Linked DNA regions of Homo sapiens: all the other regions are linked to region 2. Evidence: fine-mapped expression QTL. A gene starts in region 2. Each other region holds a variant in brackets. All regions are shown on one strand. Distances are from middle to middle. Region 1 overlaps NACC2 (NACC family member 2). Region 2 holds the start of TMEM250 (transmembrane protein 250). Region 3 overlaps NACC2 (NACC family member 2).

Region 1 (7,624 bases), 42 kb before region 2:
TGATTTCCCTCGGTTCATAATACCTGGAAATAAGGAGTATGAAAAGCAGCTGCGTGTGTGCTACAATTTTGGCACAATTTGCTCAGTTTCAATGGGTCTATTCCTAATTGTTTTAAAGGTGCTTATGCATCCTCTACTGCCAAGTACTGCATTTGCGTCCAAGCAGGATTTGGTGTTCTGTCTGCTAAAATGCTGCCTGGTCTTGGAGTATCTGGTCTGCCCAGAAGCAGGGTCAGCAGTAAGCGGTGATCCTTCCCTCTGCCCTGAAAGCAGACCCTGGCTCTCACCGAAGTAACCAACAGGGATTTGCACAGACTCCGTCATGTCCTTGACTATTTTTTTAAAAAAATTAAGATCTTGGCCGGGCACAGTGGCTCATGCCTGGAATCCCAGCACTTTGGGAGGCTGAAGCAGAAGGATCACTTGAGTCCAGGAGTGAGAGACCAGGAGAGATGGTAAGATTATAGTCTCCACAAATAATTTGTTAAAAAATTAGCCAGGCATGGCCAGGCGCGGTGGCTCATGCCTGTAATCCCAGCACTTTGGGAGGCCGAGGAGGGCAGATCACGAGGTCAGGAGATCCAGACCATCCTGGCTAACACGGTGAAACCCCGTCTCTACTAATAAAATACAAAAAAATTAGCCGGGCATGGTGGTGGGCGCCTGTAGTCCCAGCTACTCGGGAGGCTGAGGCAGGAGAATGGAGTGAACCCGGGAGGCGGAGCTTGCAGTGAGCCGAGGTTGTGCCACTGCACTCCAGCCCGGGCGACAGAGCAAGACTCCGTCTCAAAAAAAAAAAGAAAAAAGAAGAAAAAGAAAACAAAGTTCTTCATTCCAGAAACATTAAGGTTCTTTATAAAGATGTTAATAATTTCTGAGGTTATTTAAAATTATGTATCATCCCTTCAATTAACACAGACGGACAGGTCAAAACCATTCCTCGTTCTGTCACAGCAAGGCTGCCTGCCTTCCTCAAGGAACCTATCTCTGGTTCAACATTGACTCAATACTGACCGTGCCTCCACCAAGTCACACCCTAAACTGCACCGACAGATGAAGCTGGACCTTCCGAACGACCATCCCCTGTGACTCCCAGAGGGCCCATGTCGGTGGTCACATTCTGTTCCCAGCTCACCTGCGGGGCTCGGGGATGTATCACTCAGCCTCGGCGTCTACACCTCACACAGAGCGGCAGGAAGCGTGGCCTTCCCAGCCGAGGCGGAGTCGGCAGGGCCGGGGGATGCTGGCGGGAATGGGTTCTCGCACGGCCTCCTTCTGGGAGCCCGGGAGCTCTGTCCCCCACTCACTGTCGCGTATGGGGCTGGGGGAACAGCAATCGGATCCTCACGAAACAGTGACGTGAGGCCCAGTAGAGGACGTGACCTCCTCCAGGCCGACGCTCTTGGTTCTGCGTGAAATGAGCCGATTCCACCTTGTCCTCAATGGCGGCTTCTGCTCCCTCAAAGCGGCAGGCCAGGAAGTGGGGAGCCCCAGGTGTGGGTGCAGCAGGCTGCAACGCCCCCCACACACAGACTTGGCCTCAGACAGCTGTCACATGGCACCAGGGAGGTGGCCAGGACTCCAGGACACATTCTGGTCCAGTCCGGCACTGACCGGGATGAGGGAGAGCTGGCTGCGGCCGCCTGGCTGGGATACTTGGGGGGAAAGCCCTCCCTAGCTCCCCCGAGGCTGGCTGCTGCGAACTGACTGAAGCGCTCATTACAGGGTGTCCACTCTCCCCGGGCTTGGAACTCGGAGGCGAATGTCTCCCCGAGCCTGTTTCCCTTTCGTAGACGTCGGCAGCGGCTCCGTGTGAACCTGCCGTCTCCTACATCGCGGTACAGTTTCTCAAACAGATCGCGCAGCTGGGGCCAAGCCCAGGCTGTCGTGCCTGAGGACGCATCTTCTTTTATCGGGCATAGGCCCACATTCAGGGTTCGGGGTCGCAGGTCCTGCGGGAGCAGAGCCTGCAGGGCCCCCTCAGGAAACCTGTGCTGATGCTGTCCTGAGCTCCCTGTGCCCGGTCTTCCACACGCGGGGAGGACACCCCCGTGCAGACTGCGCCCAGGGGAGGAGACCCACCCAACACCCACAGGCCCTGTCGGTGAAACCTCAGAGACAGGGGTCTTGGGTTTGGGCTCTGAGGCTCGGGACACAAGATTCAATAAGAGCAAAGTCATCTCCTCTGGAGTGAGAGGCTGCTGAAAACGGAACCCAGGCTTTCCTACAAAGCGCCCAGGAGCAGCCCCGCAGCCCTCCATGTGCTCAGTGCCTGTGGCCCTGGGGCTGCTGCCCACTCCTCTGCTGCATCTGTGACAAAACTCCGAGACACCCGCTTCTCAAAGCCCTGCATGAAGGTTACGTGTGGTCACGAAGAGATCCTGCAAAGAACAGTCATCGAAAACTTGGAAATAAAGTAAACAGGCACCCTTCGCGGCCTCTGCCTGATTTGCAACTCAGTAGTGATGACACCCCATACCCCGTGACATCCTAAGTCTCCTATATGCAACCAAAAGAAAAGCAAATGATTTCCATCCAGTAGCAAAGAGAACCCCAAGGGGCAGCGTTTCCCGGCCCTGCGGAACTCGAAGAAGTGCTGTAACTAACCCAACAATCTATCCAGCCTCCTCTCCTCAGTGACTCTAAACACCCAGTTCCTCAAATGTTCTCTGAGCCAGGTTTCCTGCCCATACCACGACAAAAATGAAATGAAATTCTGATGCACCCCCCAGCCCGGTGAACCTCAAAGACACTATGCCGAGTGAAAGCCACCAGGCACACACAGACAACGCCACGGGGTTCCACTCACACGCGGGCACAGAGCAGGACAGTTCAGAGACAGGAAGCAGAACGGAGGTTTCCAGGGGCTGGGGGACTGCGGAGGGGAGTTGGTGTTCAATGGGTGCAGTTTCGGTCAGGGATGATGAAAACGTTCTGCAAACAGAGGTGAGGGTTGACAGCCATGGGAATGTTCTTACTGCCACTGAACTGTGCGCTTAAAAAATGGTTAAAATGGTGAATTTCATGTTGTGTATATTTGACTACAATTTTTAAAAAATGTATTGGCCTGGTGGTGGCTCATGCCTGTAATCTCAGCACTTTGGGAGGCTGAGGTGGGTGGATCATGAGGTCAGGAGATCGAGACCATCCTGGCTAACACGGTGAAACCCCTTCTCTACTAAAAATACAAAAAAAATTAGCCGGGCGTGGTGGCGGGCGCCTGTAGTCCCAGCTACTTGGGACTAGGCGGAGAATGGCGTGAACCCAGGAGGCAGGGCCTGCAGTGAGCCGAGATCGCGCCACTGCACTCCAGCCTGGGCGACAGAGCGAGACTCTGTCTCAAAAATAAATAAATAAATAAATAAAATAGCCGGGTGTGGTGGCGGGCGCCTGTAGTCCCAGCCACTTGGGAGGCTGAGGCAGGAGAATCGCTTGAACCCGGAGGTGGAGGTTGCAGTGAGCCGAGATTGCGCCACTACACTCCAGCCTGGGTGACAGAGAAAAAAACAAACAAAAATTAGCTGGGCGTGGTGGCGGGCGCCTGTAGTCCCAGCCACTTGGGAGGCTGAGGCAGGAGAATTGCTTGAACCCGGAGGTGGAGGTTGCAGTGAGCCAAGATTGCGCCATTGCACTCCAGCCTGGGCGACAGAGCAAGACTCCGTCTCAAAAAACAAAACAAAACAAAAAAAGCAGAAGAGAAACATGGCCTTTGGCAAAACAAACAAACAAACAACAAAAACCCTAACAGGGCACAAAGGACATTGTTGATAAGTCGTGCTTCATTAAAATATTGAAAAATAAAGACCAACACTAAGAGAAAAAACAAGC[C/T]GAGAAGGACAGACCTTTGCAACATATGTATCTTCAGCAAAGGGCGTGTGGTCAGAGTATGGAAAGAATTCTACAAATTCTACAAATCCATCAAGAAAAGGGAAACGCACAGAGGAGGGAGGGGCAAGAGCCCAGAACAGGCCCTTCACAGAGGAGAAGGTCCCCAGGCGGTGACACCTGAGCAGGGGGCAGCTGTGTGGTCACCCGGGAAATGCGAGGGGACCCCAAGGACTCTGGCCACCCCCACACCGGGGAGCAGGCAAGGGGGCAACAAAATTGTGCTTAAAATTATTTATAAAGTAATAAAAGGTAAGTGAAAGTAGTTTGAAAAGTGAATAAGGAATCAGTGATGAATACTGACTTGTGCTTTATACGCAAAGGTGTGCCTTTGGGAGTGAAAACCACGTAAATAATATCAGTCCAATCATAGTTTTGTTTTGGGTTTTTTTGTACTTCTTTTTAGTAGAGACGGGGTTTCACCATGTTAGCCAGGCTGGTCTCAAACTCCTGACCTCGTGATCCACCCGCCTCGGCCTCCCAAAGTGCTGGGATTATAGGCATGAGCCACCGCGTCCGGCCCAATCATACTTTTATAATCACGAGGTTTGCCGTACTATCTTTAAACAATCCATGCACGAGTTTACAGACACAGTGGTAGAGAGTGGGATGGACCAGGCACCCACTCAAACCCTCATCCCCAAGGCCGGGTGCATACCCACCACCTGGCAGGGGTCCCCAGGACCCCCACCCCCCGCAACCTTGTGGCCAGCCCCACTCGCCTGCAGGCCAGAAGACGCCAGAATTCCACGAAGCTCAGTCCCTCGGAATGCAGAATTCATGAGGGGGACAGGCACATCTGGGGGCAGGTTCTCCAAATAATTCTGGCTCTCTCATTTCAGGAACTAAAGGCCCAGGCTTTTCCATTTAATCTTTAAATGGCAATCCTTAATACAGGTTTTTCCATTTAATCCTTAAAGTAAGCGCAGGAGAAATACCATTACCCTACTGTACAGATGAGAAAACTGAGGCTTGGAGGTGGGACGTGGCCCGCTCACTGGCCCTGGAACCGTACCTGGATGCATAGACGGGACTCCAGGGGAATGTACTCCTAGGCCATAAACCTGTGCGAGGCAAGAGGGGCCAGCCCAGCCCCGACATCGGGACAGAAAGGGGCGTGGGAATGGCTGGGGGACAGGTCAGGCACCTGAATCTCAGCCACATCAGAGCTGAGCAAAGCGAGCCCCTCAGGCAGGGCTGTCATCACGAGTGTGGCACCACAGCCACCGCCGCATCCTGGTCCCCAGTAAGCACCCCCAGCGTGGTCCCCTCCAGGAACTGAGGCTCTCAGGGCAGGGCCTCTCGCCCCTTGTCCAGGCGACCTTGTGGGTAAGCAGGGGAAGCCAAGGCAAACTCAGGAGCACACACCCATCCCCACGGGGAGCAGATGCCCTTAGCACCGTCGCCGGCATGATGCCGCGCCGCCGCCGCCCCTCTCCGATTCCCTAACGGTTCCCGAGGGAGCACTGAAGGTAAATATGTTAATTTGACTTCAATCATAGCTTCTTCTTTTTTTTTTTTTTAAGTGCACACGGTATTAGTTTAGGGCACGTAACCTGAAATCTACTCACGTATGTCTGTGCGTCCCGTCCTTAACAAGAGAAAGCTTGAGCTCTTGCCAAGAGGGCTAAGGGCTGAAGAGGCTGCAAGGTGCAGACATCCTCCCAGGGTGGGAACTGCACTCTCTGAGCTGAGGGGGAGACCAGGGAGAGGCAGGGCACTTGCCCAGAGTCCCACACCCAGGAAGGGCTGCCTGGCACCCAGCCACCTTCAGGCCTGATGGAACGGGGTGCCATCCTCTGGCTTCCAGGCAGGAGACACTCCTACAAGCACAGGATGCCAACTGCAGAAGCCAATGCGTGGACTCCGGGGGCCCTGCAGGTGCAGCCAAGGAACCAGGATCTCCAGACAGGCCCCAGGCTGTACAGGCTGGACGCCAGCAGGTGGGGCAGCAAGCCCCTCCTCACCCGCAGGCATGGGCACCCCATGGCCTGCTGAGAATGACACGAAGGAACAGGCTGACTCACTGAGTGGAAAGGCCACTTGGCCCTCAACCGAGGGCAGAAGAGAGGCCAGAGGCCCCCCAGAGCTCCTTCCTGGGGCCCTGCCGTGGCCGGCACTCCCCGAATGCACTCCAGGGTCACCAGAGCCCTGGAGCGTGGCTGCAGAAGCCAGATGGGTCTCAGGCCTCCCACTACCCATTCTGCGACTAGGAATAGGAAAGTTACGAAATCTTGAAGCCTGTAAGATTTCAGGCCACCAGGACAGGCAGCAGCCGGGGAAGTCTCAACTTTCCAGGACCCCAAGGCCCCAGGGGCCAGGCCACAGCCGTGCTGTGGAAGGAGCCGCTAGCCCTGCCACCTGTTCCCCAAGGAAAGCTTTTGGAGCTGTTCCCCAGGGAGAGGCGGCCCTCCTGGAGAGCTACAGATGGGCTCTGCTGGCCATGGGGCTGCCTGGGCCAGGCCTGGGGCTGACCTGATAGCCCACACCCTTGGCCACCCACTGTAGTCATGGCCCAGCTGGCAGAGACACACAGTCCCTACCCCGGGCGTGGCTGCCAGCCAAAGCCCATGCCACTGTGCCCCACAAAAGCCAACGGTTTGACCACAAGGGCCTCCTGGCAGGGCCCTGTAGCCACGCCACACCAGGGATGGTGCCAGAGCGGTACTGCACCCCCAGCCTGTACAGCCTCATCCCAGCAGGGCCCCCGCACCCATCTCTGTGCTCTCCTTCTCTGAGCCCAGGCCCCTTCGCTGCCCCTACATGGGATGCCACCTCTCAGGGCATCCAAAACCCAACCCAGGTTCTAGGAAAATCCGCCCAGCAGCCCACTGCAGTGGGGTATTAAAAACGTCTCTATTAAAAATACAAAATTAGCTGGGCGTGGTGGCGCACGCCTGCAATCCCAGCTACTCGGGAGGCTGAGACAGGAGAATTGCTTCAACCTGGGAGGCAGAGGTTGTGTGCTGAGATCGTGCCACTGCACTCCAGCCTGGGTAACAACAGCGAAACTCCATCTCCCCACTACCCTGCTCCAATAAAAAAACTCCAACGCTACTGCCAGCACACCATCCCCCACCCCACAGACCGCACAGAATCAGCCCAGGAAGGACACTCCACGGAGCTCTTGCTTATCTGATTTGGAGGTCGTGGAGTGTGGGTTAGCTGGGGGTCTCCTCCTCTCCAGACACGTGGAGACGGGGGGCCGTGACACACACCCAGACCCCAGCGGAGTCACTGCAGAGGATGCAGGGAGAGCAGACGGCAGATGACCACAGGCCGGCCTGTGCCCGGCGCAAACTCCAGCCAGCTGCATCAGGCCCCCAGCAGAGCCGCCCCTGCGTGCTAGGGTGCCAAGCCCCAGCCGCTCGAGTAGGTCGGGGGGACACAGGCCTGGGACAGGTCCAAGGTGGCAGCCCCTCCCGCTGTCTCCCACCCCAAGCACATTCTGATTAACAGAGGTGATGGAGGAGGAAGTTTTCATCCCAGAACCCCACGGGCCCAGGGTCACGGATCACGAACGGCTGCGGGGAGAAGAAACGCGCGTTTCCCATATTTCTCGTAACACAGGAAACCATTCCCAGAGGAGGAAGCCCAGACCAAACGGACCCTCAGTGGCCACTCGGGGACTCTCCAGCCACCCAGGCCGCTGGAAACCCAGGGGAAGGAACCAGGTGGACTCAGTCCCGACGGGCACTGGGGGCTCCGCAGGACAGGGCAGGGGTCAGCATGCCTGGGC
Region 2 (7,624 bases):
ACGGTGTTCCCTCAAAGAAAGAGGCCCAAAGCCCTCCCCCGCAAAAAAAGCCAGAAAGGAATGGAGGTGCCTCCGCAGAAATCCAGAGCATCTGCAAGACATCCTCACAGCCCTCCCAGAACAGGCAGACAGGCCAGTGTTGCTGGAGTCAGCCCCTGGCTCCCAGGGTTCCCCCCAGGCCAGCCCCTGAGCTGGGAGCCTGCTGAGGCCCCTCCCACCTGAGCCCTTCTCCGGCCCCCCGCTAGACTGCATCTACACAATCCAAGGGGACCCTGAAGGCTGGCTGGGGACTCAGGACCCACACAGCCCCTCAGGATGACACACACAGGGTGGTCCGCGGGCAGTGCCAGGCCTCAGGCGGCCCAGGGCAGAGTAAGCAGCTTTGTGGCAGTGTGGTGTGTCAGCGAGGGGAGCCTTCCGTGTCCCGTTGGCTGGGGCTGGGGCCAGGGCACGCAGAAGGGGCTGTGCAGCCAGGAGGGCCCCCCTCCGGAATTGCTCCTGGGCACACAGCCCTCTGTGTCCAGGGGCCTCCCAGGGTGATGTCTAAAGTCCCTGGCAGCTGTGGTCCTGGAGAGAGGCCCACAGAGAGGCGGAACGGAGGGCCCACCCCGCAGTACGACCCGAAGACATGTGAGCAGGAGCCACCGGCAGGTGGGCGCTGCCCCTGAGAGTGCATACGGGGAGGGTGGGTCCAGGAAGCCAGCCTAGGGGTGGTGTCCGCGCCCCCATCACAGAAGTCTCAGCCCTTTCTTTTCTCTCCGTGGGCGCCGGGCAGCAGCGACTGCCTGGGGGATGGGCGAAGGGAAGGCGCTGGCCGACCCCACCCATGGAGAGAACACAGCCACAGGCCGGGACGATACATCAAGCTCGCACCCACGGCCCTCACATGTCCACGAAGACCATGAAGCACCAGCCCAGGCCCCCGACCAGCAGCATGGTGACGTGGATGCCATAGACGAGCAGCTCGTTCACCAGGCGGAAGTCCACGCGCCGGCGGCCCAGCAGCAGCAGCAGCACCGACAGCTTGCGCTGGAAGCGCAGCAGGACGCGAACGCCCAGGTACTGTAGGCAGAAGAGGGCGGCCAGCGCACCCCAGAGCGCCGCAGTGAACAGGCTGCAGCTAAAGTAGAGTAGGAAGCGGATGAAGCCGTACAGCCAGCGCGTCTTGATGTACACGTCGAAGTTGTTGTACTTGGTGCGGGCCAGGTGGGAGGCGCGCACGGGCCCGCAGGCCGCATGCAGGCAGGTGGTGTGCGGGCCGTGGAAGGAGCGCACCCGCCGCGGAATGGGCATGACCGGCATTGGGCCCCGGCGGCGGCGGCGCTAGGTCGCAGTGGCGGCGGCGGTGTCCAGGCGGCTGTTGGCGTAGGGGTCATGGGCGCCTAGGCCTGGGAGCCCGCAGCTGACCCTGGGGGGAGGCGTCGGCCTGCGGGGAGAGCCGCAAAACCCACGTCAGTATGAGGACACCATGCGGATCCCTCCCCAGGCAATCAGCTGGCGAAAGTGGACACAAACTCCAGCACCAGGACTACGGGAAAATGGAGTCCAGGGCGGGATCTGCAGGCACTCCTGGGCTCTTTTCCACAAACCCTCCCAAGGATACTTCCAAGGGGCCCACCACCTGGGGAAGCCAAAGTGCTTGTTCTAGGGCAGCACTGGGGAAAGGGGGCCTTGGGGACAGTGGCCAGGGGAGGCCCCCGGAAGTGGTCAATGCCAAAACGGATGGGAAGGGGCAAGAGTGGCTCTTTCCTGCAGGATCCTCGCAGCTCCCCACTAGCTGGACCACACTCTGCTCTTAGGCAGTTTGCCCGTTACTGCCCTGGTCTTCTGCGGCTGCCTGACCCAGGGCTGATGCAAGCCCTTAAATGGCATCTGCAAGAAGCCACCACAGGGCCGGGAAAAGGGACTCCAGGGCTCGCAGGTGAACCGAAAACGAGCCCGGCGGGAGCAGGTGACTCCAGCAACCTGCTGGGTGCCAGATGGACGGCTCGGGGGCCGTGGGGTCACCTTGCTGGGCCTGAACCCTGGCACTGTCCTTCCCTAGCAGTGACTTTGGGCAGGTCACCTGACCCCAAGACGGCTCCTGCTCTGTCCAATGGGGGTGCCAATAGCACTGCCTTTGTGGGTAGCTGTGGGAGGGAAGGGGCTGGGCCTGGCGTGCACAGTGGGGTCGGCCCGGGGCCTGGCAGCGGCCCTTACAGACTGGGCTGCAAAGAGCAGAGGCGGCATTTGGCTCTCCAGCTTCACCTAGTAAAGGCCGTTTATACCTTGCCGAAATAATCTGTAGACGGAATGAACTCAAAGGTCAGGAAATAAAATCTGAGCAGGAAAGTTGGTAACATTACAGGGGACTGTTGCCAAGAGCTTCGCCTGCCTTCAGATTCAGCCTGGGGCCCTGCCGTGGGGACCTGGCCAGGGCGGAGGAGGGAGGGGCCGGGGCCGCCTGACCCTCCCGTGCCCGCAGGGGCCCGACCTCGCCCTCTCCCTCCGCCCGGCTCCTCCACGGGGTGCAGGGGCCAGAGCGGCCCTATTTAAGGCCGGCCTTGGCCTGGAGCTCGCCCCGGCCGGGACCCCGGCCATGGCGGTGCCACTCAAACGCGACTCGGCGGAGCTGTGTCCCCGCAGGGTCTCGCGGCCCGCGGCTCCATCCGGGTCCCTGCGTTTCTGCAGACGCCCGCTCGGCCCGGCCCATGGACCCAGGACTGTTTCCTCGGGGCCGCAGAGACGCAACGGGCCCCGGCCAACTCCGCGTGAGCACCGGGCCTGCGCCGCGCCGCGCCGGGCCCCCTGGCTGCAGAGCCCCTGCCGGAGCCACTTCCGGGTCCCGCGCCGCGCGTTGCCCTGGAGACGGCCCCCGCCTAGGCCGGGTCCCCGACCGCAGCTCACCCGGTGCCCTCTCCGCGGCGGCGCCGGCGTCCCGGACCTCGGGGCCGGCCGGCGGTGCTAGGGGCCGGGCCTGCGGGTGCCCCTGTCCCTCGGGGCTCCGTGCGCAGGGCGGCCGCATGGTGCTGGGGCGCGCGGCTGGGGGCGCTGGCAAGGCGGCTGAGGGCGTGGTTCACGCGTCGCCGGCTGGGGTCGCCCTGCAGGTGAAGGGGCTCTCGGGCGCGGCCGCCGGAGGCGTTTGGCCTAGCGTGGGAGCCGTAGCGCCGTCCCTCGACGGCCACCGTAGGGCGGCCTCACGCCCCCTCCACCCGCGCCGACCGAGCCGCACTTCCCTTCCCCCTGCTCCGGGCCCGCGCTGGGCGTCCCGGACTCGTCGCTTCCCGAGGGCGTGCGTGCGTGCGTGCGTGCGCACGCTGCGAGCAGTCCGTAGCGTTCCCTCCCCCGAACGCCCTCGGTGCCGCGCCTGGTCTTCTGCGCCTGCGCTTGCCGTTCCTGGGCCGCGCCTCCGCGCACGCGCTACCGCATCCCGTGGAGAGGCAGTGCGCAGGCGCGCTTCCGTGGAGCAGTCCTTTGGCCCCAGCAGAGGGCTTGACCGTGGTCCTGGCCCCGGACTGAGGTGTCTGCGACCCGGCGCGCTGCTGCCGTCGCTGGGGTGGGGCCGGGCCCCGGAGGAAGCCGCTTTCCCGGCGGGGGTGGGCGGCCCAGGGACCGGGAGCAGGTCTGGTCCTCGCGGGGCCGTGTGCGAAGGCCTCCTGCGCGGCCTGGGGCTGGGAGGACAGGGCGGCGGCGGGAATGAGGGCGCCCCCCAGGCTCCAGGAGGGCGGGGAAGGGTGGGGGCGGCTGACGCCACGCGGACCCGGGCGGCACGGATCGGGTGTGTAGCTGCGAGGCCCGGTGGGCCGGCGGCGACGTCGGCAGCCGAAGTAGGGACAGCCCCGGAGCACGAGCAGGCCCAGCAGCAGCCCCAGGGCCGCCCCCCCGCCGCCCCCCAGTGAAGGAAGGGGACTTGTGTTAGTGTCCTCACGCCTGGTTCGTACAGGCTGGCGGTTGTCCTGGGGGTTTCCAGCGAGGAATGTGTTGGGGAGCGCTCCTGGGTGTGGCTGCTGGGTAGGAGGGGAAGGCAGGGTCAGCAGCCCCTGGGGCGACCGTAAAGTGGGTGGCCCTTCAAATTCAAGGCACTGGAACAAGGGGGCTGGGCCCTCCTGCCCACCAGGCCCGTCATTGGCTGCAGGCCTCCCGGGACGGCGAGCTGGCTCCTGGGCCCCTGTCCTTTGGACCAGGGCCGCCCTGAGGGCTGGCACAGCTACCTTCTCCACTGTGGCCCCATCCCCGCCACAGGAGAGAGAGCCGCCTTTACCCGACATGAGCAGGAGTTCGAGGAACATCTGGACGAGCAAAGGCCACCAGGAGGTAGCACAGCAAAAAAGGCCAAGAGCCTGTTTTCTTTACCGATGGCTGGCGGCAAATATTCCGAAAGAAACGTGTCAGGCAAGAAGCGCTAGTTCACGCCTGTCATTCCACCGCTTTGGGAGGCCAAGGCAGGGGGATCACTTGCCCCAGAAGTTTGAGACCAGCCTGGGCAACATAGTGAGGCCCCTGTCTCTACAAAAAACTTAAAATCAATAAACAGGTCTCCTTCCTTCCTCAATAGTCCTGTTGGTGGCTCACCTCTCTGCCTCTCCAGATGTGAGGCAGATCCACACGTTTAGCTATTGAGATAAGGCTGGGCGTGGTGGCTCACACCTGTCATTCCGGCCTCAGATCTCTTGTGCCCAGGAGTTTTAAGACTAGCCTGGGCGACCTGGCTGGCAACATGGCCTCCACAAAAATAAATAAAACATTTTAAATATATAAACATTGAGATAATAGCATCTTGATGCCTGTCTTCATTTTTTGTCTTCTGTTTTAAGGACTATTAGAGACAAACTAACCAAAGATAATTCTCCCCTCCCATGTGGCTCGTGCTGGGACGCCGGCACCGTGAGATGGCGCCCGTGGCCAGATAGAGGGTGGCGTGTAAAGCAGGTGGTCACCCGTCACTCGACTTTTCGCGTGCTGGTGAGGGTGGTCGCATGTCCATGGATCAGGGCTCACACCTGGCCCATCTGGTGGCTGTGCCATGGGAGGAGCAGAGCCACAGCCCCGCTCCTTGCTGTGGGTTTCCCGTGTCCTCCCTGCCCTGCAGTCCCCTGACTCCAGCTCTGGATTAGACACCCCCTGCTTCCCACTGTGCACCCGCCCAGAGAAGCACAGCATGCGTGCCTGCACTTGCCCCCACGCTGCTACCCTGCTCTGGGTACCAAGGACACAGGCACAGCAGAGCCCCCACCCTCGAGGCACCTGTCATCTTGTGACAGGGACAGGCTGAGGGGCAAATGACCAGAAAGGGTGGCAAGTGCCATGTCAGACATATGGTCTTCATACAGGGGATGTCCCAGGACTGCTGGGCCAGAGACCCCTCCATGTGGGTCAGCATCACCCAAGCCAAAGGCCAAGGAGGTCTCTTGGGGGGTGTGGCCGTCAGAACAAAGCTGCCAATGCGCGTACTTTTAAAGGTGCGGTCAGCTAGTGAGGCTGTGGCTGGCCCTGGCTGCATCCAGACCCTGGAGTGTCCTGCAGCCAGGGGCGGATGCAGGTTTTGTGGGGCCTGAGGCTTCTGTGGTTTAAGGGACCTTCCTTAAGAAAATACAAAATTAGGAACAGGCCTTGAAGCTTCTGCTGCTAAACAGGGTCAGGTGAACCCACTGCCAGCTGTGCCCAGAAGACAGTCCCCCAGGCTGAGTCAAAAGTGGTTCATAGGCCGGTCATGGTGGCTCACGCCTGTAATCACAGCACTTTGGGAGGCCAAGGTGGGCAGATCTCAAGGTCAGGAGATCAAGACCATCCTGGCTAACACAGTGAAACCCCGTCTCTACTAAAAAACTACAAAAAAAAAAAAAAATAGCTGGACGTGGTGGCGGGCGCCTGTAGTCCCAGCTACTGGGGAGGCTGAGGCAGGAGAATGGCATGAACCCAGGAGGCGGAGCTTGCAGTGAGCGGAGATTGCGCCACTGCACTCCAGCCTGGGCAACGGAGTGAGACTGTCGCAAAACAAAGAAAAAAAAGAAAAAAAAAGTGGTTCACAAAGTCACGTCTAGTGTGACCCCTCATCAGCACAGACGTACTCCTAGGTGTCCGTTTCTGGGTGAAGTCCTGGAAGCAGATAAATGTTTGCAGAGGTGATCTATGTGTGGTGGGATTAAAGAGATGAATATATTTTACTGTTTTTTTAACATTTCTGTACTTTCTGATTTTATTTTTTCAGCATGAACAAACAAAAAAAAGCCGGATTTGGACAAATAAAAAGAAGTGCATGTCAGCCCGAGTGTCCTGAAACATGTTCCTGTATTAGAATCTCCAGGAAAGCTGGGGCCCCCACTCGCCACTACCTCAGGCTGGGCCCGCAGTCACGTGCTTCTCCCTACAGGAGGGTTCTGTGTCCTGAATTCCCAAAGGGTGCAGCTGTCCCCTTGTCGCCTTGTCTGTGTTGATGGTTCCACACTCTCTGGTCAGCCACCTGCCCCGCCAGTCTCTGCTCGCCCATGGATGGGGATGACCACTCTAGCTGTGAGGGTGGCTTCCCGGGCTAACCCTGCTGCTGCTGCCCATTGCTTCCAAGGCTGGGATATCACTTGGGGTTTGGGGTGAGGGGACAGTAAGGGGGAGCCCTGGTTGCCCTTTCCAGGAGAATGAGTATTTAAGTGCGGAGTTGTTTATTACTTGACTTCAGCAGAGGCGCCATGGTCGGGGAAACGCTTCATGTGCCTTGGGTTATAGGGCAAGTCCCATCTGTCTGCCTTGAATTTCGGTTTGGAGAATCTGTAAGCTCCACACACGTGGAAGCGTCTGTGCCCCGGGTGTGGGTTCTGATCTTGGTTGTGTTCGTGGCTGGACGCTGTCCTTGAGGCCACCCCTTGGCACCCTTCACAGAAGACAGTGGGGGTCGCCCTTCCCTGGCTGACCCTCCAGAACCGCCAGCCTCCCCTACCTCCCTGTGAAACCAGGGTACAGGGCAGGAGCCTGGACCTCTTTACAGTTGCCTTTTCTCTCTCTCTGTCCCTTCTCCATCTTCCGAGCTCCTACTCGCCCTTCAGGACCCAGCTCGAATGCCCCATCTCTGGGAGGCGCCTTCAATCTTGGGCTGCCCCTTCCGTCACACCCCCTGTCCCCTGTCTCCTGCCTCCCCTTCCTCCTCACACAAAGCCACCCCCGCCTGTTGGTGGCCTGTGTCTCCGCTGGCCCAGGGCTCTCTTGCCGTGGCCACCGTGGGTTTTGGCCTCGTGACCCAGTCCATGCGTGCACAGCGCAAGTAGCTTCCCAGGACACCGATTTCCTCCCCGGCCGCAGCTGCTTCTGGTCCTCTGCCCACTCCCGGGTTCTGCGCCTTCCTGCGCCCCCGGCCTGGCCACAGCTCGGTCACCCCAGAACCACCGTGTGCTGGGGATTTGTCACGGGTTTGTCCTGACGTGTGAGGTCCAGCCGGGGTCCCCATAGCCTCCCTGTCCCCGTCCCTGTCCCCGTCAGGCCTCCTGCTGCGCTGTGGACAGTGGCTTGGCGCCATCTGCTGGGCTGGTGCCTGTGGTGCCGCCAAGCGCAGGAGGGACCCAGCGGCTCCAGGTCTGTGGGAGACTTTAAGTTGGGGCCGAATGTGGTGCTCGCTGCCGACGCAGAGCCCCCAAGCTGGACGGGACCCCTGGCCGTG
Region 3 (7,624 bases), 72 kb before region 2:
TTCCACCCACGAGGAAGGGCTGAAACGTCAAGGCTGACAGAGAACCCCGGCTGCCGTAAGGCCGTGGGGCGCCTGCTGCTCTCACGGGCTGCTGGTGGGAGTGCGGCCTCATGCAGCCCCTTGGCCTCATGCGTTCAACCACATGACGAACAGAAACCATGACACACGGAAATATACAGGATCTACCGCTGCACGGTCTCACGCACAGGGATCCTATGAGAAGCAAAAGGGCAGTAGGAGGCAGCAGGGTGGTGGTCCCGTGGGGCCAGGATGGGGTAGACGACTCTGTGCAAAGAACCCCAGGGTAACATTCTACAGGAGGGAACTGTTCTGTATGTTGATTGCAACATTGCACTTGATTGCACAGTGAACTCACTGATGGCACACTTTGTAAAGGATACAAATACTTTTGGTTTTTGTTTTTTGGTTGGGGACAGGGTCTCGCTCTGTCACCAGGCTGGAGTGCAGTGGCGCAATCTCAGCTCACTGCAGCCTCTGCCTCCTTGTTCAAGTGATCCTCCTGCCTCAGCCTCCAGAGTAGCTGGGACTACAAGCGTGCATCACCACACCCGGCTAATTTTTGTATTTTCAGTAGAGAAGGGGTTTCGCCATGTTGGCCAGCCAGCTCTCAAATTCCTGACCTTAAGAGATCTGCCCACCTCAGCCTCCCAAAGTGCTGGGATTACAGGGGTGAGCCACCACGCCTGGCCAATACAAATACTTTAGCAAGCAAAAAAGGCGGGGAGGAGAGAACAATGGCCTAGACGGGCCACACCACAGATGCACCATATCTACAGGATGCTGATGAAAGCAGACAGATGGTCCAGTGCGGTGCTCCCACCTGTAATCGCAGCTTTTTGGGAGGCTGAGGCGGGAGGATTTCTTGAGCCCAGGAATTCGAGGCCACCTGGACAATATAGCGAGACCCTGTCTCTATAAATAATTACAAAATTAGCTGGGCATAGCGGCACATGACTGTGGTCTCGGCTCCTCGGAAGGCCTGAGTTGCAGGGGTATTGGCCCTTCAAAGCAGAAGGAACCCTTCACCCCCGACCCCTGCAGCCAACGGCACTCCCCGGTCTGGCCATCTCTGCTTGGGGCCTCCTCTTGGGCCCCACCCTATCCAGGCCAGAGATGAAGGCACCCTCTGCTCCCTGGGTGGTGGTGGGGGGGCTCTAACAGTGCGGACGCCCCCGTCCCAGGCCACAAGGCAGCAGAGTGGGGACGATGGTGCGATTTGCATACTCAGCAACCCCAAGTTCAGCCCCTCTTCTTGCTTCTCTCTGGGAACCCCAAACAACAGTCCTGAGTTTTGAGCTGCTGGTGGGAGCGGCCTCGGACATACAGCCCTGCTCCCCGACCGGGCAGGTGTACCTTCCGGATGGGTAATGGTGGGGGGTGAGTGGCTGCAACGGAGACCACCCTAGCCAGCAGCCCTGGCCACCTGGGTTCTGTGGCCCAGGGCCGGGAGCACCCCACCCAAGCCTGGGTGTTCAGCCGGGGGATGGACGGGGCCAGTGCTGACCTTGCAGGTCACCCTGAAAAGGGTGGGGCCCGCAGCAGGCCTCTCCTGATGGGCAGAGCCAGGACAGATGTGCTGCTGTGTGCCACGACCCACACCCAGTGGCATCTGTCCAGGGTCCAGGATGTGGGCAGCTGGTCTGAGGCTGGATGGGAGGGTCTCCTGGACCCTGAGCAGTTCCAACTTTGCCTGTTTTGCCTGAGTTCAGACCGCCCCATGGAAGTGGGTACCCAGCTTAGGGATGGGTGCCTGACCCCCATGCCCTGCAGAGAGGCACACAGGGGACACCGGGTGGACCCCAGAGAGGTGGGGGTGGAGGGAGCCAGAAGGGAAGGGGAAGCGGACATGCACAGGGCCACCCACTCACGGGCCCACAGGCCCTGTGGCCAGAGCTGTCCCCTGCCAGGAAAGGGTTACCGTCACGGGCCCACGGGCCCTGTGGCCAGAGCTGTCCCCTGCTGGGAAAGGGTTACCGTGGAAGTGTGCAGCTGGTGTCAATACCCAGGCGTGGCTTTGTCTCTGCCAGCCACACAGAGTGACATCTGCCAGCTGCAATTAAACATCTGCCCGCCCGAAGCCACTGCTGAGGGCATGAAAGGGATGGCCGGGCGAGCCCCATCAGGCACAGGAGGGGGTGTGGGCGCAGGTCCGGGCAGCCCCCTCCCCTTCAGAGGACAGGAGAGAAGCCCCAGCATGGCACTACCCCTTCCCTCTGCGAGCTCCATTTCCCTGTCCCTCGACCTCAGCGGTCTGCCATGCCACAGGTGCCCGTCCTCAGCTTGGGTGACAACGGCCACCCCCACTCAATGAAATAACCGTCAGGGCCCCGTGCTGTCATCTGCCCTGGGGTAAAAGCAGCTGCCATGACCGTCTCGGCTGTTGCAGGGACCTGTGGATCCAGATGTGCCAAGGAGACCACGGGAACAGACCCCTGAGCGCAGCTGGGGAGCCCCCACCCCAAGCCCAGCCCCAGCTGGCGCTGCCCACCCGGCCGGCTGCCTTGCCGGGGAAGCCCCGGCTCCCGGTGTCCCTGCTGGACGTTCAGATGCCCCCGAGCCCTGAGCCCCAGCGGGAATGCAGCCGCACCCTGGGGGAATGAAGGCGGGTACGCGAGGAAGAGGGCCCGAAGAGGAAAGGGGCTCCCGCTCAGGCCACAGCACCACCAAGTCCCAAGGCACAGGCTCCCTCTGCCCGGCCCACCTCCTGCTCTCTGGAGGGGCTGGCCCCTGACTCACCCCCGTGGTGGGGCGGGAAGGGATGGGGGTGCAGGGGAGGCGGAGGCAGGCATTTCGCAATCTCTAGCTCAGATGCAAGGCCCCTGACAACGCCAGGCAGGGACGCCTGCGCCTCACCCTCTGGGAGGTTTCCCCATCAGCCAGAGGGGAACTGCACTGGGCGTTTCCCTTCCGGTGGATACGATGTTTTTCTTTCACCCCTGGGTGCACCCCACCCCCAGCTCATCTTGCTCCGGGGTCTCCCGAGGCTGCCGGCCACAGGGCCAGGAGGAAGGTCCCTGCCTGCCGCAGGGGTGATGGCTTAAGGCCCAGGAGGGCGCCCTGAAGTGACTGCTGCAGAGATGAGGGCTGGTGGGTGGGAAGCACTGAGCGTCCCGAGCCAGCGTCCACCTGATGGGGACCGAGACGGGGCCTGCCTCGCTGCGGGTGGGGGGGCTTGAACTCGGCCCCATCAACCTCACACACCCATGCATGGCGCCTTCTCGCAGCTTTGCTCCTGACTGCAACAAACTGAAAACAACCTGAATGTCCTTTGATAAGGCACTGGAGAAATCAAACGTGGCGGCTCCTTCTGACGGGTGGTGACGCGGGACCTGGAGGGAGGGAGGAGAGGCACGAGACAGACACCGCATGGAGACCCTTGCCGTGAGGCCACACAGACCATGGGGCGGGGGCTGTGCCGGGGACAAAAGGCAATTAACTTTATCTGTAATATTTTGACTTATTTCAAAAACAGGAGAACAGCCCTACAGGACAAACTGTCCATGGTTCTTAA[C/T]GCGAGAGAGGGTGGAACAGGCACACGCATTACCACACACCAAGGTGCAGCTCCGGGACCCTCGGCAATCGCTCAGGCCCGCCTCTCACTCAACAGGTAGGGAGACTGAGGCCAGGGAGGAGGAGGAGCTCAGCCTGCAGGGACCTTAGAACACGCTAGTCCTACCAGCCCAGAGAGACAGCTACCTGCCTCCACTCCTGCACGGCCTGGCGAGGGCAGCAGCCAGCCTCCTGCGTGGGTGTGAGGACGTTCCCCGGACGAGCCCGGGACACGGAGGGCACGGGGAGCTAGCACCCAGGGGCAGCTCCAGGTCAGGCGACGGCCCCTCCCTCTACCTGCTCCCCCCATGGCACCGCCAACCCAGCACACCCAGCGACGCCAGCAACGTCACAGCCAGTAACCTAGATTTTAACCAAGAAATCACACACCCCCTTTCTCTGCCCCACTTATGGGCTTGCCGAACAGAAAAACCATGACAAGAAACCCAGACTGTGGCATCCAGAGCCAAACTGTATGGTAGGTGGGCGGGAGCAGGCCTGGCCTCCCAGCCGCCCACTTTCCACCTCGCTGGCATCAGCGACACCCGTGCAAAGGCAGAGAATGCCGCGCAGCACCTGCGGCCTGGACAAAGCCCTGCAGGAACATGGCCTTGAGGGTGTCCCCACCCCTCAGCCCCAATGGGACTGTACCTCGTGTGGTCTGAGTACGGGGGAGTTGGAGGGAAGGACTCACCAGAGCAGCTGCCTCCCGTCCCCACCCAACACACATCCGGGACTCCACAGAGCCGCTTCCTGGCTGCGGTCCTGCTGACTCCCCAAAAACCCATCAAGGCAGGTGGGCGTGAGGGCTTCTAGCTCACGAAGTCCAGGCGATGTGAGGGCTTAAGGCTGACCCAGCACCCAGGGGCAGATGCATGGGACAAGTCACGAGGCTTCACCGTGCTCCCAGCAAACCCGACACCCAGCCCTGGCTCCCATCACCCCAAACACACCAAGGCCCAAGGTCACATTGGAGCAGCAGGGGGCTGTGCAGGGAGGACCCTGGGAAGATGTTTGGATACGATGGGTCTGTTTCCATCTCCATGGTGCAGCTCCCTGACCCGTCGGCAACCCGTCGGCAGGGCCCTGTCTGGCTGCCATTGTCGGCAGGGCACTGTCTGGCTGCCATCAATGGGGGATGTCCTCAGGGACTGTAGGGGTGCCCAGCCTGTCTGGGGTTCTGCCCTGGGACTGGAGCCCATGGACAGAGCTCCTTCCCAACAGGGGCCCTGGGTGGGCCTTGGGAGCCTTCCCCAGCAGCCTCTGGCTGGTCCCCTGCCTTCCCTGGGGTGGCTGTCAGCAGGGGCAGAGGGAAAGCGCACATGGGGCGGATTCCCCGGAGGCCTCAGCCAGCCGGGTCCACAAGCACTGACATCCTGTACGGCCTCTGTGGTGAGCCGGAGCCCGGTGTGCTCTGCCCTCAGGAAGGGCCAATTCCGTAGCTAGCAAAGCTCCCAGTCTCAGGACAAATCAAGCCCTACCCCCTACCACTAAAAGAAAACAAAAGCTGTGAAGCCCAGATCGAGGTGGCCTGTGAGCTGGCATTCTGTGGGATTCATGCAAACACAGCAATATACATTTAAACCAAGTGCGGAGTTCTCAGGAAGACACCACGGAGCCCAGAGCACCTGCTGGCAAGGCAGTGGCTTCTCCTGCAGGCGGAGAGGGAGCCAGGTTGGCCAAAGCAGTGGTTACCCTGCTGTCCCGGCTGTGGTGACAGACGCTGCACAGGGACCCAGCTGGCCTAGGGGTCCAAGCTGGTGGGTGGTCCTGGCCCCCTCTGCCCCCAACCAGCACTGCAGGAGGGGAAGGGCAGGGGGGCGTCCCATCAGGGCACAGGGATATGCGTGGTGGGGTGGAGAGAGTCCCTACACTGCCCCTCGGGGTCCACCACCTGCCCGTGGCTGGCATTATGCACCCGCACCCAGGCCCAGGCCGCTGCACACAGGCCCTGCATGCAGACCAGCCAGGTGGCCAGCCCAGACACACAGTCAGGTTGCAGGGACACCCGATCCTGGGCACCAACTGTGGGACTCTGCCCAGCAAAGCCTGAACAGTCTCCAGAGGCTGTAACCAGGAATCTCCAATTAGGGCAACCTGGGTTTGTGGGGCCCAGGACGGGGAGCAGCCCTCCTTGAAAGAAAGGAACGGAGAGGAGGGGGAGCGACTGCTCACTCGGCTCAGCACACTGGGCGCTTCCTGGCCCATCCCTGGCGCGGGGCCTGGAGAGGTGGTGGCAAAGGGGCTGGGTTCAGGGGACTCTCTAGACCTGGCCGGGTGAGGCGCAGACTGAGGTTAAAGGGGAAGTAGGCGGGTCCTCCCGTACACCGCGTGGCGCCAGGCCCTTCACAGACGGGGAACGTGAACCCTGGGGCAGGTCCCTGGGCCACGGGACACCTGCGTTTCCTCATCTATCCAGTGGAGACAAGACCCTTCCTACAGGCTGGCAGAGTCTCCTAGGAGTTCTTGTCTCATCCAGGACCAAGTCTGAACCCCATGGTGAACAGAGCTCTGCCACCTCCTCCAGGCTTGGTGGGGGGCTCCCCTGTGGCCCCGCAGGCCTCCGGCCCAGTGGCCTCCTGAGCCACCCGGGTCCCAGGCAGGCCCCGCTTCCCAGCCAGGTGGTGTGGGGCTCCACCCCGCCGCGTTACCTGCATAGCTGCCGGAGGCCTTGATGTACATCTGGCCGTACTGCTCCTCCACCATGGTGTCGTAGGCCTCGTCGTCCTCCTCGTCCTCCTCGTTGTGGTACGAGGTGGGGCTGTCGGTGGTGGGCAGGCTGCTGGCGCCTGGACTGGTCCGCTCCCCCTGGGGGTAGGGCATCTGCTGGATGCCGGGGATGAGGGTGGCCAGGCTGGGCACCCCGTAGTAGGAGACACGGGGCAGTTTGAGAGGGGCTGTGCCCGCCGCCACCGCAGCCCCCGCGGCCACCGCCACGCCGTCCCGGGGCCCCGTCTCCAGCGGGCGCTTGGGGGCCAGGCCTGGGCCGGCCGGCGGCAGCTCCATGGCTTCATGCTTTACTCGGGTCAGCAGCGGGATGGGCACCGAGGGGGACACGACGTAGGGGGCCGCGGCGGCGGCGGCCGGCTGCAGCTGGTTGCAGGGGCTCTGGGGCTCGGAGCCGGCGTCCTCGATCACAGCGGTCTGCGAGTCGCAGTGGGGCGAGCTCACCTTGAACATGAGGTCGGTGCCGCGCTCCACGATGTGCTGGATCTGCAGGAAGCCGGCCGTGTACATGACCACGAGCTGCTCGCTGGCCGTCATGGTGAGCCTGCCCGTGTAGCAGAAGGACAGGATCTGCTGGAAGCAGGCGGGCGGCACGGAGCCGGGCAGCTCGAAGGCGCTCTTGCTGTTGCCGCTGAACAGGTCGCGGAAGTAGAGGCTGCTGGCGGCCAGCACCGCCCGGTGGGCCTTGAAGGCCTGGCCCTTGACCACGATGGACACATCGCAGTAGAGGCCCAGCAGGCGCTGCTCGTTCAGGCAGCCCAGCACTGTGTTCCCGAAGTTGGGGATCTCGATGTGCAGCATCTGAGACATGGCGGGCGGGCAGCGGCGGGGCTGGGCTCTCAGCGCGGGGCGGCCCTAGCGGGGCTCATCTGTGGGGGGCAGGAGGCACGTGGTCAGTTCCTCCAGGTCACGGGCTCCCCGCTCAAGGGGCCGTTCCCACCCCCTCCTCCCCCGCCGGGGGCTTACAAAGAGCGAGCCTTCCGCACGCGCCCTCCCCCGCCCCTCCTGGCTGGGACACTCCAGAGAAGGGACACGGGGTCTCCCAGACCCCCTGGCAGACGGGCAAGAGGGCCCGGCCAGCACTGCTGCAGATCCCCGGGGTGCTGCCCGGCAGGAGTGCGCCCACGCCACTCCCAGGGGGCTGCTCTTAGCGACTCGGTCTCAGCAGGCGAGGAGGAGCGCAGGCCTGAACCTGCCCCGGGACAGGAGGTGGGGGCCGCCGGGGGAGCCTCTGGGCAAACCTGCAGCCACTCTCCTCCCCTCAAAAAAGTTCCAGCCCGCACAGGAGCTCCCGGGAGGGGCCGCGCTGGAGCAGCGGGGAAGGAGG

Evidence for each region. PIP is the estimated chance that this variant, and not a neighbour inherited with it, causes the effect. A credible set is the group of variants that fine-mapping cannot tell apart.
Region 1: its variant is the best candidate, but not a certain one, in a credible set for the expression of TMEM250 in whole blood (TOPMed, PIP 0.63).
Region 3: its variant is the best candidate, but not a certain one, in a credible set for the expression of TMEM250 in whole blood (TOPMed, PIP 0.85).

What each region holds. Positions count from the first base shown.
Region 1 is chr9:136,073,665-136,081,288 of GRCh38, forward strand. The region is part of intron 1 of NACC2 (NACC family member 2); the gene reads right to left. Among named protein-coding and RNA genes, the nearest start is that of NACC2, 18 kb to the right of the region's middle. RefSeq lists enhancers at 972-1,722, 7,075-7,624. The variant C/T (reference allele first, on the strand shown) is at 3,829.
Region 2 is chr9:136,115,599-136,123,222 of GRCh38, forward strand. TMEM250 (transmembrane protein 250) reads right to left here and starts at 3,277. Exons shown (of 2, transcript NM_152833.3): 1 at 2,887-3,277; 2 at 1-1,426. The coding sequence starts at 1,302. The coding sequence ends at 883. It overlaps LOC107987142 (a long non-coding RNA gene), which reads left to right and starts at 2,194. Exons shown (of 2, transcript NR_165242.1): 1 at 2,194-2,304; 2 at 6,188-7,624. RefSeq lists enhancers at 1,223-1,798, 1,799-2,374, 3,528-4,104, 4,105-4,679 and silencers at 2,391-3,440, 3,471-3,860.
Region 3 is chr9:136,043,415-136,051,038 of GRCh38, forward strand. It overlaps NACC2 (NACC family member 2), which reads right to left. Exons shown (of 6, transcript NM_144653.5): 2 at 6,222-7,166. The coding sequence starts at 7,107. Among named protein-coding and RNA genes, the nearest start is that of NACC2, 48 kb to the right of the region's middle. The variant C/T (reference allele first, on the strand shown) is at 3,533.